2 separate regions of the Homo sapiens genome follow, and region 1 is linked to region 2. Evidence: fine-mapped expression QTL. A gene starts in region 2. The other region holds a variant in brackets. All regions are shown on one strand. Distances are from middle to middle.

The links. PIP is the estimated chance that this variant, and not a neighbour inherited with it, causes the effect.
Region 1: its variant is fine-mapped to the expression of HTR3B in whole blood (TOPMed, PIP above 0.99).

What each region holds. Positions count from the first base shown.
Region 1 is chr11:113,956,553-113,964,888 of GRCh38, reverse strand. No RefSeq gene overlaps it. Among named protein-coding and RNA genes, the nearest start is that of HTR3A, 14 kb to the left of the region's middle. RefSeq lists enhancers at 1-26, 7,294-8,179. The variant A/C (reference allele first, on the strand shown) is at 3,680.
Region 2 is chr11:113,901,056-113,909,343 of GRCh38, reverse strand. HTR3B (5-hydroxytryptamine receptor 3B) reads right to left here and starts at 4,548. Exons shown (of 9, transcript NM_006028.5): 1 at 4,359-4,548; 2 at 1-49. The coding sequence starts at 4,410.

The DNA.
Region 1 (8,336 bases), 56 kb before region 2:
TACCGGGGGTCCTTGCTCCCAGAGCTCCCAAGATGGTGGCGGGCGCTTCCAAAGTGGCGGCGGGCTGCTTCCAAGATGGTGGCAAGCCTCGTGTTCTCTGACCTGGGGTTCTTGGCCTCACGGATTCCAAGGAATGGAACCTTGGGCCCTGCAGTGAGTGTTATAGCTCTATTAGGAGCCGTGGGTCACAGAAGAGAACCGTGGAACCCAGTGACTAGTGTTCAGCTCCATTAGGACGAACCTGGGCACTTAGCCATGCGGGAACAAAGGCAAGCCTTTAGCCCAATCAGGAGTGGCAATGGGGGCCTCACTGGATCAGGAGCACAGCAGACAACCTGCTGGATCCAGAAGGATGGAAGTCAGCGGCAGGTCTGCAACGGCGGCAAACAGCAGTGGGGGATGGAAAGCGAAAGATCAGCTCGAGCGGTAACCAACACGGACCAGAAGAGAGTGTAGTTGCAAGATTTAATAGAGTGAAAACAGAGCTCCCATACAAAGGGAGGGGACCCAAAGAGGGTAGCTGTTGCTGGCTCGAATGCCTGGGTTTATACCCCATGGTTGTCCTTCCCGCTGTGCTCTCAGGCAATAGATGATTGGCTATTTCTTTACCTCCTGTTTGTGCCTAATTAGCATTTTAGTGAGCTCTCTTTACTACCTGATTGGTCAGGTGTGAGCTAAGTTGCAAGCTCCGTGTTTAAAGGTGGATGCGGTCACCTTCCCAGCTAGGCTTAGGGATTCTTAGTCAGCCTAGGAAATCCAGCTAGTCTTGTCTCTCACTGTGTCATTCACCTCAGCATTTGTGGGAGGGCAGCCCATCCCCAGCCGAAAGCAAGACCCTCAGCACATCCCAAAGGACACAAGCCTGTCTTGGTGTCCAAGTCCTCCAGAGATAGAGATAGCAGAGAAAACTCCCTCGGGCCTTAAAAATCATCTAGTCCAGCCTCTTCCCAGCACACAAACCTTGATGACATCCCAGCAAATGATCTTTCAGCCTCTGCAGACCTCCAGTGATGAGACCTCTCAGGATAGCCCATTTCATTTTTGGAGAACTCTTTTCTACACTGATCCCCAAAACTGTTTCCCTAAAACTTCCACCCATCCGGTCCTATCCTTTGGGACTAACTTCTTTTTTATGTGAAAGTCCTTACACCATAACACCTTCTCTTCTCTGGGCACAAACCCCTCAATTCTTTCAGCCCCAAGTGTTGGAGCTGGAAGGACTCTGGACAGGGAGGGCAGAGACTCATCTTAGTGTCTGCAGTGCTGGTCCATGTGCTTGGGGCCTCAGAGGTGCTAGTCAGAGCCTGTGGAATGGGTGGATGAGTGAATGAATCTGGTGCAAGCTGCACAATTTATAAGTGAGGAAAGTGAATCTCTGCAGTGATAGGTGACTCGAGCAAGGTCACACAACACCCAACACAGGAACTAGCTCCCAGTTCGGAGGATTTTCGTGAGTCTCGTACCAGAGTGCTTGCAGCCCTCATTTGCTTTGTCTTCTTTTTTCTTTTCAGGTTTGGCCTGGTTAGTTGCACAGAGGCCCTCATAGCTCATCTGGCCCCTGTTACCTCTTTGTCTTCTCCTGATGTGACTTTCTTTCCCCCCCCCCCTCCGACTAGACAAGTCGTCCAGGAGTATCGCCCAGGCTGGAGTGCAGTGGTGTGATCTTGACTCACCACAGCCTCCACCTCCTGGGTTCAAGCAATTCTCCCACCTCAGCCTCCCTGGTAGCTGGGATTACAGGTGCCTGCCACCATGCCTGGCTAATTTTTGTATGTGTAATAGAGACAGGGTTTCACCATGTTGGCCAGGATGGTCTCGAACTCCTGACCTCAAGTGATCCACCTGCCTTAGCCTTCCAAAGTGCTGGAATTACAGGCATGAGCCACCACACCCGGCCTGCTGTGACTTTCTCCATCAGTCTGCCCACTCCAACCTCATGGCCTTCCTTCTGTTGCTTGCACAGACCAGGTGTGCTCTGCCTTACAGCCTCTGCCCCAGCTCTCCCCTCTGCCTGGAGCTCCCCGCTCTGCATGTCCACTTGGCAAATACCCTCTCCTTCAAGTCTACATAAATCTCCCCTGCTCAGTGAGGCCTCCCGTGGCTACTCCATATAATACCCTCATCTGCCCCATCCCACCTTCTCATGCCTGATCCCTCTTCCCCTGCCCTACTTTTTCTATTTTTCCATAGCCCCATTAGTACCTAACATTCTACACAGTTAACTTCTTTTGACTTCAATTGATTCTTTACTGTCTGTCTCTAATGATGGAACTTTAGCGCCATGAAGGCAGGGACCTCTGTGTGCTTTGTTCACTGATGTATCTATCCCAAGTGCCTGGAATAGTGCCCGACACATAGTAGGACCTCAATAAATATTTGTTGACTGAATCTCCTCCTCAGAGAATCTGCAGGGCCCCAGGTCTGAACTGCCAGCCACAGGACACGGACGCCGAAATCATGACTGCTAATAGATTGGTTGATTCCACGACATGTCTCTTGGAGTCAACTCATGTAATCATTGGTTGATTACATGACAGTAATCATGACATGATTACTGCTCTGTATCACTGTCTATTGGGCACTGGCGACATGGCTGAAGGGAGATGTGTAGACAGGCTTGCTGGGGGTCATCACACAGGTTCCATACACAGCTAGGCCTGCAGGGTGCTTCCTACCCCAGGGCCAAGTGGAAGATCTATGGATGCAGTTGGGTTCACGGTTGATATAGTTTGGATGTTTGTCCCCTCCAAATCTCATGTTTTGAAATGTGATCCCCAAGGTTGGAGGTAAGGCCTAGTGGGAGGAGTTTGTGTCATGGGGGTGGATCCCTCTTGAATGGCTTGGTGCCCTCCCCATGGTGATGAGTGAGTTCTTGCTCGAATTGTTCATACAAGAGCAGGTTGTTGCAGAGCCTAGCTGCCTTGCCCTCTTTCTCTTTCCTCTTCTCTCACCATGTGAAGCCTGCTCCCCTTCACCCTCCACCATCAGTGGAAGTTTCCTGAAGCCCTTACCAGAAGCAGATGCTGGCACTATGCTTCTGGTATAGTCTGCAGAACCATGAGGCAAACAAACTTTTATTTATAAATTATCCAGCCTTGAGTATTCCTTTAGAGCAATGCAAGATGGCCTAAGACAATTGTTGCCCTTTTGCTATTCAAACCATCTCAAAAGCTTTGTGTGGTATCCTGAATAATGGCCCCAAAGATACCCAGGTCCTAATCTCTGGGACCTATAGCTCTTACCTTAGACGGCAAAAGGGAAAATTACAGATGTGATTAAATTAGGGATCTTAAGATGAGAAGTTGTACTGGGTTGCCAGGGTCCGTCCTAAATGTACTGATTTAGTGTCCTTATTAGAGGAAGGCAGAAGGAGATTTGATGATGGAAGAGAAGGCTGTGCATGACAGAAGCAGAAACTGGATTTGAGCCTTGAAGACGGAGGAAGGGGACATGAACTGAAGAATGCCAGTGACCCCTAGAAACTGAAAAAGGCAAGGGCACAGATTCTCCCCTGAGAACCTCCAGAAGGAACCAACTCGGCTGGCAGAATTGGTTTAACCCAGTGAAACTGACTTCGGACTGTTGACCTCCCGATCTGTAAGACAATAAACTTGTGTTGTTTCAAGCAGCTAAATTTATGGTAATTCTTCACCGTGGCAAAGGAAAACGAACCCATGCC[A/C]TTCCACAGGCAGTTCTCATTTTGCAATCACCAGCACAAACCCTAGTTTTGTTTTCTTACATCACACAAAACCTCAGACCCTCGGAGGCCAAGGTTGGGGCGGGAGGACCCTGCAATATCCTGAGTGATTTTCAGCCCTTCTGGCCTCCTGTTCCTCCTCTGGAGTGCTCTCAGTTGAGCTACCCTCTTCTTCCTCCTCCTCTGGAGCGTTCCACCTCTGTAAATAGACCCTGAAGTGTCTTGCTGGCCTGGAATAGCTTCCTGGAGAGGACCCTCTCAATCTTCCTGGTTCCAAGCATTTAATTAGTCTTAAATGAAGAGTCCTGGAGAAGCGCTCAGCAGTCTGCGTGTATGCTGACATAATCACATTTGCACATTGGCTGTTGCCACTGATTGTCCTCCTGGAAATTTTCCTTTCTCTCTGGGTTCCCTGAAGGTGGTTTCATGCACTCAGAGAGCAGCAGCATTTCCCAAACTTGTCCTCTTGTTTCAGAGGACTCTTCTAAATCCCGTATCTTGATTTGTCATTGCACTGAAAAAGGGTCGAACTGAACAGCCCCAGAGTATTCCTGAACTTCACACATGAACATACTAATGGCTACGACTCAGTGTTCCTAGGCTTGAGATTTTTGTATATTGTCTCATTTATTCACCACAATGACCCTGCAAGGTAGAATTACTATTCCCACCTTTCCGATGAGGAAATGGCAGCTCAGTGCACTGAGGGACTGAGTCGAGCTTGGTGATTAGAAACTATGTGGTAACTGTGAGCACTGTGCCTCGAATATTCCAGTTCTCCCCCTTTCTGGGCACTTGTAAGGATTGTACTTCCTGGCCTTGTGGTGGTTCGGTGGGTTGCACGACAAGGACAGTAGGACACTGAGTTGTGAGCAGAAAGGACGTGTGTATCTTCTTTTTTTTTTTTCTCCTGAGATGGAGGCTCCCTTTGTCTCCCAGGCTAGAGTGCAGTGGTGCAATCTGGGCTCACTGCAACCTCCACCTCCCGGGTTCAAGCGATACTTCTGCCTCAGCCTCCCTAGTAGCTGGAATTACAGGTGCACACCACCATGCCCTGCTAATTTCTGTATTTTTAGTAGAGACGGGTTTCACCATATTGGCCAGGCTGGTCTCAAACTCCTGACCTCGTGATCTGCCCACCTCAGCCTCCCAAAGTGCTGGGATTACAGGCATGAGTCACCGTGCATGGCATTCCTTTTTTTTTTTTTTTTTTTTTTTTTGAGACAGAGTCACTTGCTCTGTCACCCAAGCTAGAGTGCAGTGGTATGATCTAGGCTCACTGCAACCCCCACCTCCTGGGTTCAAGTGATTCTCCTACCTCAGCCTCCCGAGTAGCTAGAACTACAGGCGCCTGCCACCACACCTGCCTAATTCTTGTATTTTTAGTAGAGATGGGGTTCCACCATGTTGGACAGGCTGGTCTTGAACTCCTGACCTTAAATGATCCACACCTACCTCAGCTTCCCAAAGTACTGAGATTACAGGCGTGAGTCACCACACCCAGCCACATGTGTATCTTTCTGTGCTGTGGTGACTGGTGATGTTCGCAATGGAGGCTGCAGCGGCCTGGGTCTCAGGGCGAGGACATAAGATCAGAGCTGGGGCTGACCTCTGTGGGCACAGAGCTTGCTGTCGTAAGCCACAGAGATTTGGGGATCATGTGTTACCACAGCAATAACCTAGCCTGTCCTAACACCATTCAAATGCCAGCTCTGCCACTTCCTAGCTACATGCCTTGGACAGGTTAGTCAGCCTCTCTGAAGGGAGGATGGATACTGTCACCTACCCCAGAGTTTTGGGGAGGACTTAATGAGGTGATCTGAATAAGATTCTTTTTTTTTTTTTGATATGAAGTCTTGCTCTGTCGCCCAGGCTGGAGTGCAGTGGCATGATCTCAGCTCACTGCAATCTCCGCCTCCCAGGTTCAAGTGATTCTCCTGCCTCAGCCTCCTGAGTAGCTGGAATTACAGGTGTTCACCACATGCCTGGCTAATTTTCGTATTTTTAGTAAAGATGGGGTTTCATCATGTTGGCCAGGCTTGTCTCGAACTCCTGACCTCAAGTAATCCACCTGGCCTCAGTCTCCCAAAGTGCTGGGATTACAGGCGTGAGCCACCATGCTGACCTAGCCCAGCCCCATTTCTGACACCTCTCCCTTCCCCACTTCCCTTCCCATTTACATTTCTTTAGCCTGGGCAGGGAGGCCCCTGTGGAGGCCTCAGGATTCTAGCCCAAGGCAATGTGTGCATCTTCTCTTCTGGAGCGGGGGCCTCTTCCCCAGCTGGGTATAACACTGCATGGGGATGATAACCCCTCACCTTTGCAGCTTTCACCCCAGGAGCCTCCACAGCTCCCTGGGGTGGGAGGGGCGTGGGCTCTTACTCTCACCACTTTGCTTTTCAGAGGAAGCTACTAAAGCTGCTTGATGTTCAAGCAAATAATCCTAATACCAAATTCTGCTCTTTCACTCACTCATTGTGTGATGGTAGGCAGGTTTCTTAAACTGGCTGAGCCTTAGTTTCTGTATTTGTAAATGTAACATACCATGGAAGATGGTCATGTGGGCTAAATTAGCTTCACCATGGAAAGTCCTCATACAATGCATGACACATACACGCTTCCCATTTCAGTAGCTATCAGTAATCATTATCATTGTCTTTAGTGTTATCTTGGGTATATTTTTATTTTCTCTCAGCCTCATCTGCAGAATGAGAGCTTTGCATGAGTTGGTCTAGATTCTCCTCCAACTTCAAGTTACTGCCTCAGACACATGTACACACACTCTCTCTCTGCTGCCCAAAGAAGCAGAGTAGGGGACCCCAGGCCTATAAAGGCACAGTGACAAGCTTGGGCTCTGCCTAGTGCCCTCTGTGTCAAGCTCAGGATGGCAGGGAGAGGGATGTGGTGGCTGAAGCGCAAGGGGGTAGGGTGTGATGGGAGGACAGGCTGCGTGGCAGAATTGTCAACAGGCTCAGGGGGACCTAAGTGCCTGGAGTGCAGCCCCAGAGCCATCTCCTGTAGCCTTGGAAGCAATACCCTGTAAAACCTAATGGGTGTTTGAAATATCACCAGAAAGGGAAGATCAGGAAGACGGAGAGAGCTTTCATCCCTCCCAGGGACCAGGGCTGAGACACGGTGGCGGCAGGGAGAACAGGCCACTCGGCAGCCTGGGACCAGAATGAGAAGACAGAGCATCCAGTCTACAAGAGTGATGCCTCCGCCAAGCACTGGCACCTCTGGGAGGAAAGGGAAGGAGCAGTGGCAGCAGCACAGCCTCCCCTGTCACCTGGGATTCTTTCCCCATCACTCTCCACCACCAGGGCTCTGGTAGGAGATGGTGGCCAGGCACTTCCCTCGCTGCAGCCCAGCTGGCTACCTTCCGGGCAAAATGGCATGGATGTTCCTTCAGCCAGAACTCTCCAGTCCTCTGCCCTGTGCCAGCCTTTGTGGTAGAAACTGGAGAAACAGAAGGATGACAACCGCATGGTACCTCTGGTCTCAGGCCTACCTCCACCTGATGTCTTATGTTTCACGCTCCGGGGAAAGGGAAGCATTTGGATGAACAAAAAGGTTGCATCTGTAGGAGGAGAGTCAGCTAAAGAAAGCTTCTCCCTCAGGAAGAGGGACTCACACAACTAAGGGCACCGGGCAGATGGTCCCTTAAGGTACCATGACCATAAGTCAGCAAGCAGGAGGGCCCGGAGGCTGGCCCAGGGCAGCAAGTGAGCTCTGGGAAACGGGGGGCCACCTGATCGCTGGTGCTGGCAGCCCAGTCTTGTTCTCCAGAAAAGAGGGTGTTCACTGCAGGGGAAGGGGGCTGTGGAAGAGGCCCTCTTTGCCCTTCACTCACTCTCTCCTTGGACGGCACACGCAGAGCCATCTCTGCCATCTGCCTGCAGCCTATAATTCAGCTGCCCAGCTGTGCTGAGTGCTTGACTGCTCTGATTGTGAGGCGGGGAGATTACCGTGTGCAGCACAGTGATTGGCAGGTGCCCCGTGGGCCCAGCTGTCCTGGCAGCAGGGGTGGGCTGCATGTAACGCTGGGCTGCCCCTGAACACCCAGCTCCTCAGGCCTCCCTGAGTCTGCGCTCTCACCTTTTACCTCCATCGTTCTTCCATCCCTGCTTCTCCAAAGACAATGTGCACATCACTCCCCTGAGAGAACACTTCGAAATCAGACTCAGATTCAGGAGGTCTGGGAGGACCTGAAATTCTGCGTTTCTAACAAGTCTCCAGGCGATGCTAATGCTGCTGGTCCTGGACCCACACTCTGAGGAGCAAACCCGGCGAGTTTACAAAGCGCTTTCATATGTGATCTCCCTGGGCTCTCATAACAGCCCTGTGGTAAGGTGGTGATGAAGAAGAATTCCTATCCTTTCAATGCCTGAGTGCAAGGCACTGTGCTCAGCACTTAATAAATCTTATCTTTTCTTTTTTTTTTAATTATACTTTAAGTTTTAGGGTACATGTGCACAACGTGCAGGTTAGTTACATATGTTTACATGTGCCATGTTGGTGTGCTGCACTCGTCATTTAACATTAGGTATGTCTCCTAAAGCTATCCCTCCCCACTCCCTGAGAACTGAACAATAAATCTATCTTATTCCATTCTCTCAATACCTCAGCAAAACACCTCTTT
Region 2 (8,288 bases):
TGATACAGAGCAGAATCCTGGGGATGATGTGTATCTGTGGCTAGAATTCCTGGAAAATAAACTATCATTGTGAAGATAAAAGTAAGAGGAGCTTGGTTTCTTTAGGAGGTTTCAGACTGTTCAGGACTCGGTGGCTTTTACTAGAATATAGCTTTCAGCTCACCAAAATCTGCATCAATTCACAGCCAGCTGGTGGGGCCTTTGGCAAATGCTTAAAGTAAGCTGATGGCCTAAGTGCCCAATGGAGAAACCTCATTGTAAAAACAAGTAAATCAACGCCATCTCCAAGGTTGGAAAACTGTACCTACAATTCCATTTTACAACAATCTTGCATTTTGGAGACAGAATAATTTCTTTATTCCTGTATCATCCTCTCCTAGCATCTAGAAAAAACCCACCTACACACTTAGCCAAAACTTAACTCCCGCGTTGGTTTTTCTTTTGATTTTTCATGCGTAATTCAAAAATTCAATAGAAAAATCAAGCAAAAAAACATGAAGAAACCCATTAACCCAAAAAACTTGTATAGATTTCTAGATAAAGGGATTAACGAGAGCCCAATTTGTACTTTTCTCCTCAAAAATCTCTTTTCTCATTTCATCTGTCCTTAAATAAAATGCACTTGTCAGAAAATGAGATCTTTGTTTTGAGAAAATTCTCTCTGGTTCCAGGGAACAACCATTTCTTCTGACCCAAAAATCTTGATTTGTAGAGGAGCTGTGACTGGTGTTGAGGCCAGGGAGGCCAGAGGAAGGGAAGCAAGAGAAATGAGCACCAGCAATTGGAAGTGACAAATTTGTGAGGGCTTTCTCTGAATTGCAAAAAGATATTTTGTTCACAAGCTTTGCCAGCCCTTAGGGGATTCAATGCTTCACTCAGTCATTGGACCGAAGCAAATTGCACACCTCCTGACAAAGTGCGTGAGTGAAATCTCTCTGTAGTGTCCTGCGTGTGAATTTGCCTGGGCTGTCAGTGGTTTTGATGGTTATTTTGATGAGCTGCCAAAGGTATGAGGGATCCAGCAGGAAACTGTAAATGAGATCGCTTCTCCCTGTGCGACAATCCTGTTTATACCCATTTCTTTATGAATGATGTCATGTCACTTGCCGCTACAGGCAGCAATTTCTATGATTTAACAATGTCAGTGTGACCAAAACGCTAACAACAATGCTGGAGGTACAATGCCAGACTCCTTGTGGGCAGTGCAATATACACTTTCATTACCGTCGGAACTGGGAATCTAATGAGCATTTTAACTCCCTAACAATCCACCCAAGAAGATGCCTAAAATGGCGTTAGCTATTCAGGCGTGCAGGACTAAGGTGTGTGGCTTGCATCAGGCATCATTTGTAGGGTTTTTGTGAACTGTTATTGTCAAAAAGTGTGCTGTGAATCTCTCTACCTGAGAACATTTCTCGCTGGTGTACCCCAGGGGAGGGAAGTCAGGAGCACAAGGCAAAGCTGTCCCAGTGCTTTTCCTGCCAACTTTGCTGTGGGCAGCTTCACGTTTACCTCGCTTGGAAGCTCCCAATTCAAGTCTCAGTTGGGGAAACACCGAAATGAGTATGTTTCAATACAGGAAATTACCCGAGACAGCATTAAAACATAATTCTGAGAAATGAATATGTGTTCCTCGCACTGTCTGCTCACAAAGACTCAAATTCCCCTCTGCGATCTTGTCTAGGAAGCAATCCATAGATTCCCTATGGATAAACTCATGTTTTCTAGAATGGGTCAAAATCTTGGTTAAAAAGAGAAAGTTCTGGAAGCTAGGACTAGGAACAAAAGAGAATCAAGCACTGAAAGGAGAAAAATAATAAGCAAATGGAAATATGCTTAAATAAACCAAAAGGGGAAAGAGTTCTTTGTTTAAGATGGGAAGAAATAATAAATTACATTTCTACTATGAATGCAAATTTGCCTGAGGAGAAAGATCAATTACAGGAGAGAGATTAAGGATTTAAGTGACCATTAATTAACAGTAAATTATGCCCCTTGAAAGCTAATGTGACATTCACACAAGCACTAAATGACTCACAGTTCAGTGATGTTTCAACAGACACTGATGGAAGCTATCAACAGACCCAGAAAAGATTCCTCGCCAAAACTGCCTTCTTGAATGCTAATAATCAGCTTCAAATGATTCACTTGTAAGATTTCTGGAAAGTAGAATGTGTTAGGGACTGAGCTATGAAGCACTTGCAGGTGAAGAGAGATTGAAAAGGAGGAAGATAAGAACACAGTAAAATTATTCCTGTGTTTTCCTTGTTTTAATGACTTACTCTCCCATGCACCTATCTTAAAGTGTTCAGGGCACTTTGATGGAAAGCACTATTCTTGCTTTAGTCACTATGTATCTGTAGGATTATAAGAGAGTTACACATATATCTGAGAGGTTAAAAGGAAATGAGATTTATGTATTGAATTCCTAACACTAATTGAATGCTGACTGTATGCCAGGCACCAGGCTAAGTCCTCACATGAATGATCTCCTTCAAAGTTCCCAACAAACTTATGAGACAGGTACTCTACAGCTCTGTGAGGAGTGCACTATTCCTGCAGATGAGGGACTATTGGCATAGTGAGCTTAGCACTGCCCAAGGTCATGAAGCTTGCAAGTGAAGGGAGTGATATTTACACACAGCTGGTCTGGATTCGAAGTCCAAGCTCTTAATCATGACGCTACATGATTAAGTGTAACCTGGCTCCCTGAGAATATCAGGAACAACAGCAAGTAACCTTTCAAAAAGAAGACTGACATGTTGTATGGAGTATATTATTGGACAGAAATAGCCAGTGGTATTTTCTGCATGTGTTTTCAGGTTAATAATATCTTACATTTGCATTTCACCTTACAATTTAACAATGCTGTCTTATCTGATTGTCATGAATATCCAAAATAAAGTTAGCTTACAGGAAAACTGAGTCTCTAAGAGATTAATTGACTTCCCAGGGTTACGTGGCTGGTGAGTGGTGAAGCAGGAATTAGCTGGCTCTCCTTGTTCAGGCCTCCTTCTATACCAGCACACTGCCCCCTGGGATTGGTTCCGTGCTCTTACACTTAACAAATCATCTTGATTTGTAAATATAGTAAAATACGTAAAGTAAACATAGTAAAACCCAGTACAATTCCACAGGGCAGGTCTTTCTGCAACAAGTATCCACGGAATGATTTATGGTAAAGCACTGGTTATCAGACACTATTAAAACACTTCTTTCTGCTACATTTAGAACAAAAATCATGCATAATACAAAACATTAGAGAGATATTGTTAAGAACTTAGTCTGTTTTCTTACCTTCATTTTTCTATTTTATCTTAGTTTAATGTTCACGATTATTTTCTACTAAGAAACCCATTTGGCATTTAATGACACTTCCTCTGTTTTTATTTTTTACAATTAAGATATGCTTTTATCCTTTATGTTCAACATCCAGGATTTTTATACTTTAATGATAAGTGGCTATTTTTCTTCTCTACCCAATAAAAAAATCATTTCCAGCTTCCTGGCTACCAAATTTCTAACTCATCTCTATAATTGACTCATTCCACTTCCAGTTACATCCTAAAACTTGAGAATTCAGATATGAGCTCTAGGAGAAACCTCAAGAAAGTGGGGTGTTGAGAACACCAGCATAATCATAAATTCTTGATTTGTGCGCATGTACTAAGAATCAATTGTATCCTAACTAAAATGATTCAATTCAGTAGAGTTAATACTGGTGCCATGGAAATATAGTTCTAGAAATTTAGAAAAAAAAGTATTAACTTCTAAATTACTTTTAAGAGGAATTGTAGACTCAAAACTTACCAGTTTATAGTACCTGTCTTTAGAGATATACTCATCACCTATATAGATTTTGTAAGGCGAGATGTTAAGGCCTCTAATACCAAAATGATATACATATATCTGTAGCCATGACAAATCTAGTGGACTTTTTCTCTGGGCTGCTAACAGCTGATAATGAAGCCAAGACTATTTTGGATAATAAAAACATATTATCCACACATAAAAGCAAATTTGAAAAAGAATGCCCCAAACTCTCAATCAACCTGCAGAGAGCTTGATTTCTAGAGAAGCAGAGATTTATCAAGCAATTATAACATTTCAGAGCATATTTTCAGCTATGTGTAAAAAGCCCCACAGTCTGATGCTATATGTATACGTATTTGCAATCATAGGAGCCAAGTCACAAACAAATCATTGTTTTCCATATAGCTTCACAGGACTGGCATTTTACAGACGATGAATAAAAACAAACATGCCTGAGAAGTCCTACAGTACGGTGTATACAAATATTGTCTCTATCTTCTAAGAGTTAATCCTTAATGCCTAGTAAAATTATTAAAAGGACTCACCTGCAGCCACCAGGATGCAGGCCCACAGGGGAGCCATTACACTTGACAACATTCCTGGGCAGATCCCAAAAAGGAGAAATGCAAACTTGCCTACCAGATGGAATGCCGCTCAATTTCTCCTAACAGGGTTCCTCTCCACTCTGTTCTCCTCCTTCTCCGTTTGCCAGTTGATGCTATCCTTACTGGTGCTATTTTGTAAACACTCAGTGGGACCAAAGGCAATACCAGCACCATGCAAATGTTTTGGAATTGATGCCGTCATGAAATCCCTTAACTTCTCCCTTTGGTTCTGCCCCAAGATCAGACCGTGGCCAACATTTCCATTTTCCTGACAGGAGATAGCTAAGTGAATAATGTAATCTAAGAGGAGCCCCTAAGGAGAGGAAATTCCACACTAATATGATTTCCTTTACAGCCTTTACCTAAGGCAGTACTCTTGCTGACATTCAGGACACTAATTTCATTAATAATTGAAATCCAAATAGCTGTTCTAAATCAGACTTATGCAGTAACATCTTCAGCATTTGACAGTGGTTCTTGGGCTCTTGAATTACACAAGGCTAATGGAAACCTGGTATTGTCTAATGAAGAACAACTGCAAACAATGCAATGGAAAAGTGCTTTTTGTTTTTCCTAAGCCCTTTTAATTAAAAGAAACATTGACTTTTGATAAATAGGAGGGCTTCTCAAATTTTCACTGCTCACAATTCAGAAAGTAACCTTCTAGAAAGGATGCTTCTAGGCTTATTGAAGATGAAAACAAAGTTCAACATCATTTAATAAAAGTTTTTTTTTCACTTTTTGATTGAATACGCATTCATTTTTCATTACTAAGGAACATGATGCATAATTCTATACAATAACACTATTTTCCATTTCTAGACACCCCCAGATGCTCTAGAAAGAAAAAACAAATACCATTTCCAACATCTGCCTGCTTTTTTATTAAAAATGAGATTATAGAGGCAAATTTTGATATAAATTTTCACAGAGCCAACCGAAGGGGGGAAAGTATATATTTGATTCCTATTCTCCTAATCACTCAGTCCCTTTGTTTAGAATCCATGAAGTTCTACACCTAATTTTCATCTACCAATAAAATGTAGCCTAATTGCTTTCTTACTGTTGGTGAAGGGAGTGGTATACACAGAAAGAGAGAAAACTAAGATAACCATTTGGTGTTGACTTGGTTTTGGAGGTATCAGTGTGAACCCATGGTTTTCAGTACATTTGCTAAATATATAAATAATTGCAAATAAGCTGGGCGTGGTGGCTCAAGCCTGTAATCCCAGCACTTTGGGAGGCCGAGGCCAGTGGATCACTTGAGGTTAGGAGTTTGAGACCAGCCTGACCAACATGGTGAGCCCCATCTCTACTGAAACTACAAAAATTAGTCAGGCGTGGTGGCACATGCCTGTAATCCCAGCTACTCGGGAGGCTGAGGCAGGGGAATTGTTTGAATCAGGAGGTGGAGGTTGCCATGAACCAAGATCGCGCCACTGCACTCCAGCCTGGGAGACAGAGGGAGACTCCGCCTCAAAAAAAAAAAAAAAAAAAGAAAAGAAAAGAAATAAATACAAATGTAATGTGTGTTTGCACATGTTCATACATGCATATATTCCCTAGCTCTGTCCACTTAGCAGCCTAGGAGAATGACACCCCAATAGTAACAAGCACACCTAGCTTCCATAGCTCTTCCGGTATAGTCTTGCCAAAAATTCATAACTTGAATCTATTCAGGAGGAAACACCAGATGAGACAGTGGCATACTGTGGGACAAACAAAACAGCAGGCATCTTCAAAAGTGCCAAGGTGGGCCAGGTGCAATGGCTCATACCTGTAATCCCAGTACTTTGGGAGGTTGAAGTAAGAGGACTGCTTGAGCCCAGGAATTTGAGACCAGCCTAAGCTACATAAGGATACCCTGTCTCCACACAAAAAAATAAAAGATTAGTTTAATGTGGTGGTGCACTCCTGTAGTCCCAGCTACTTGGGAGGCTGAGGCAGGAGGATCACTTGAGCTCAGGAGATAGAGTCTGCAGTGAGCTGTGATTGTGCCACTGCACTCCAGCCTGGGCAATAGAGGTAGACCCTGTCTCAAAAACAAAAACACACACACACAAAAGTGCCAAGGTTATAAAAGTTAAGGAAAGACTGAGGAACCTATCAGACTAAAGAGACACAAGCACAATATCTGATTCTGAATTGGATCCTTTTGTTATAAAGAACATTTTGGGAAGAATTGAAACTCGAATGAGGTATGTGGATTAGATGGTAGTAATGTGGCAATGTAGTAATGTTGGTTTCCTGATTTTAATTGTATAGAGATTATGCAAAAGAATGTCCTTGTTTGTAAGACCAGCACACTAAGTATTCAAGAATGAGGGAAGATCGCACACAGTGGCTCACGCCTGTAATCCCAGCACTTTAGGAGACCTAGGTGGGTAGATCACCTGAGATCAGGAGTTCAAGGCCAGCCTGGCCAACATGGTGAAACCCTGTCTCTACTAAAAATACAAAAATTAGCCCGGCACGGTGGCACATGCCTGTAATTCCAGCTACTCAGGAGGCTGAGGCATGAGAATCTTGTGAACCCAGAAGGCAGAGGTTGCACTGAGCCGAGATCACACCACTGCACTTCAGCCTGGGCGACAGAATGAGACTCTGTCTCAGAAAAGAAAAAAAAAACAAAAAACAAAAACAGGGCACATCATGTTGATCATGTCGCTAACTTATTCTCAAATGATTGTGGGGGTCTAGGGGAATTCTTTGTACTATCCATCCAATTCTGCTATACATTTGAAAATATTTCAGAAGAAAGAGTAATTTAAATGTAACTTGGTGGAGGAACTTTGGTACACAGTTATGGAAAGTTTATCTGAGAAATACTCTTTAGAGAGGGTGGGCAGATAAATGGGGCTTCATCAAGAGGGAAGATCATAGAGGACTGATCTGGCCCTCAAAGTCTCAGCTCTTCCTATCAGTTCTTTGAATTGTCAGCTTCTACTTATGGGATGAATTAGGACAAGAGAAAGGCAAGCTACAGGCAATATAGCTATGTAGGTAGCAGTTTTTATGGGAAAGCAATGCAGAAGCATCCCTTTATGCAAAGGTTTAATTGAGGCGATGATCGACATTGCATTCTTGCCATGCATTGTAGTAAGCTATGACTCTAAGTCAAACCTTCTGGGGACGTGCTTCCCTCCCTTTTCTTTGCACTTTCTGATATGCCCATCTGTTACTGGAAGGCCATTACTAATGATGTGTAATACAGGTACATTACAACTTTCATTAGCTAACTTAACAACAGTCTAGTAATCCTGCCCATTATGGCTCTTTATTGGCTGATGAATTCTGTCAAGATGGCAATGATTTTGTATGAGTGACTTGTCTTCAAAGTAGTTTATATACAATGCTTCCTGATCTTTCCTTGACAGCCTTGCTCTGTACTGTCAGCTGGCTTAGATCTTTCTTTTTCTAATCTTAGTGTCCTGTCTGGACTTTGTTTACTCAGTACTTTTAGCTTTTTTTTTTTTTTTCCCTAAGAGGCAGAGTTTCACTCTGTCGCCCAGGCTGGAATGCAGTGGTGTGATCATGGCTCACTGTAGCCTCCATCTCCCAGCCTCAAGCAATCCTCCCATCCCAGCCTCCCATAGCTGGGAGTATATGTGTGTGCCACCACACCTGGCTAATTTCTTCTCTTTTTAGTAGAGATGAGGTGTTGGTATGTTGCCCAGGCTGGTCTTGATCTCCTGAGCTCAAGTGATCCTTCCGCCTTGGCCTCCCCAGTAGCTAGGAATATAGGCATGCACCACTACACCCAGCTCATACTCAGTTCTTTTAGGTTTGGTATTGCTCCTCTCCCCACCCTTCAGTTTTTCACAAAAATGGTCCCTCCTCACTATCTTACATACAGCATTTTTCATCCAC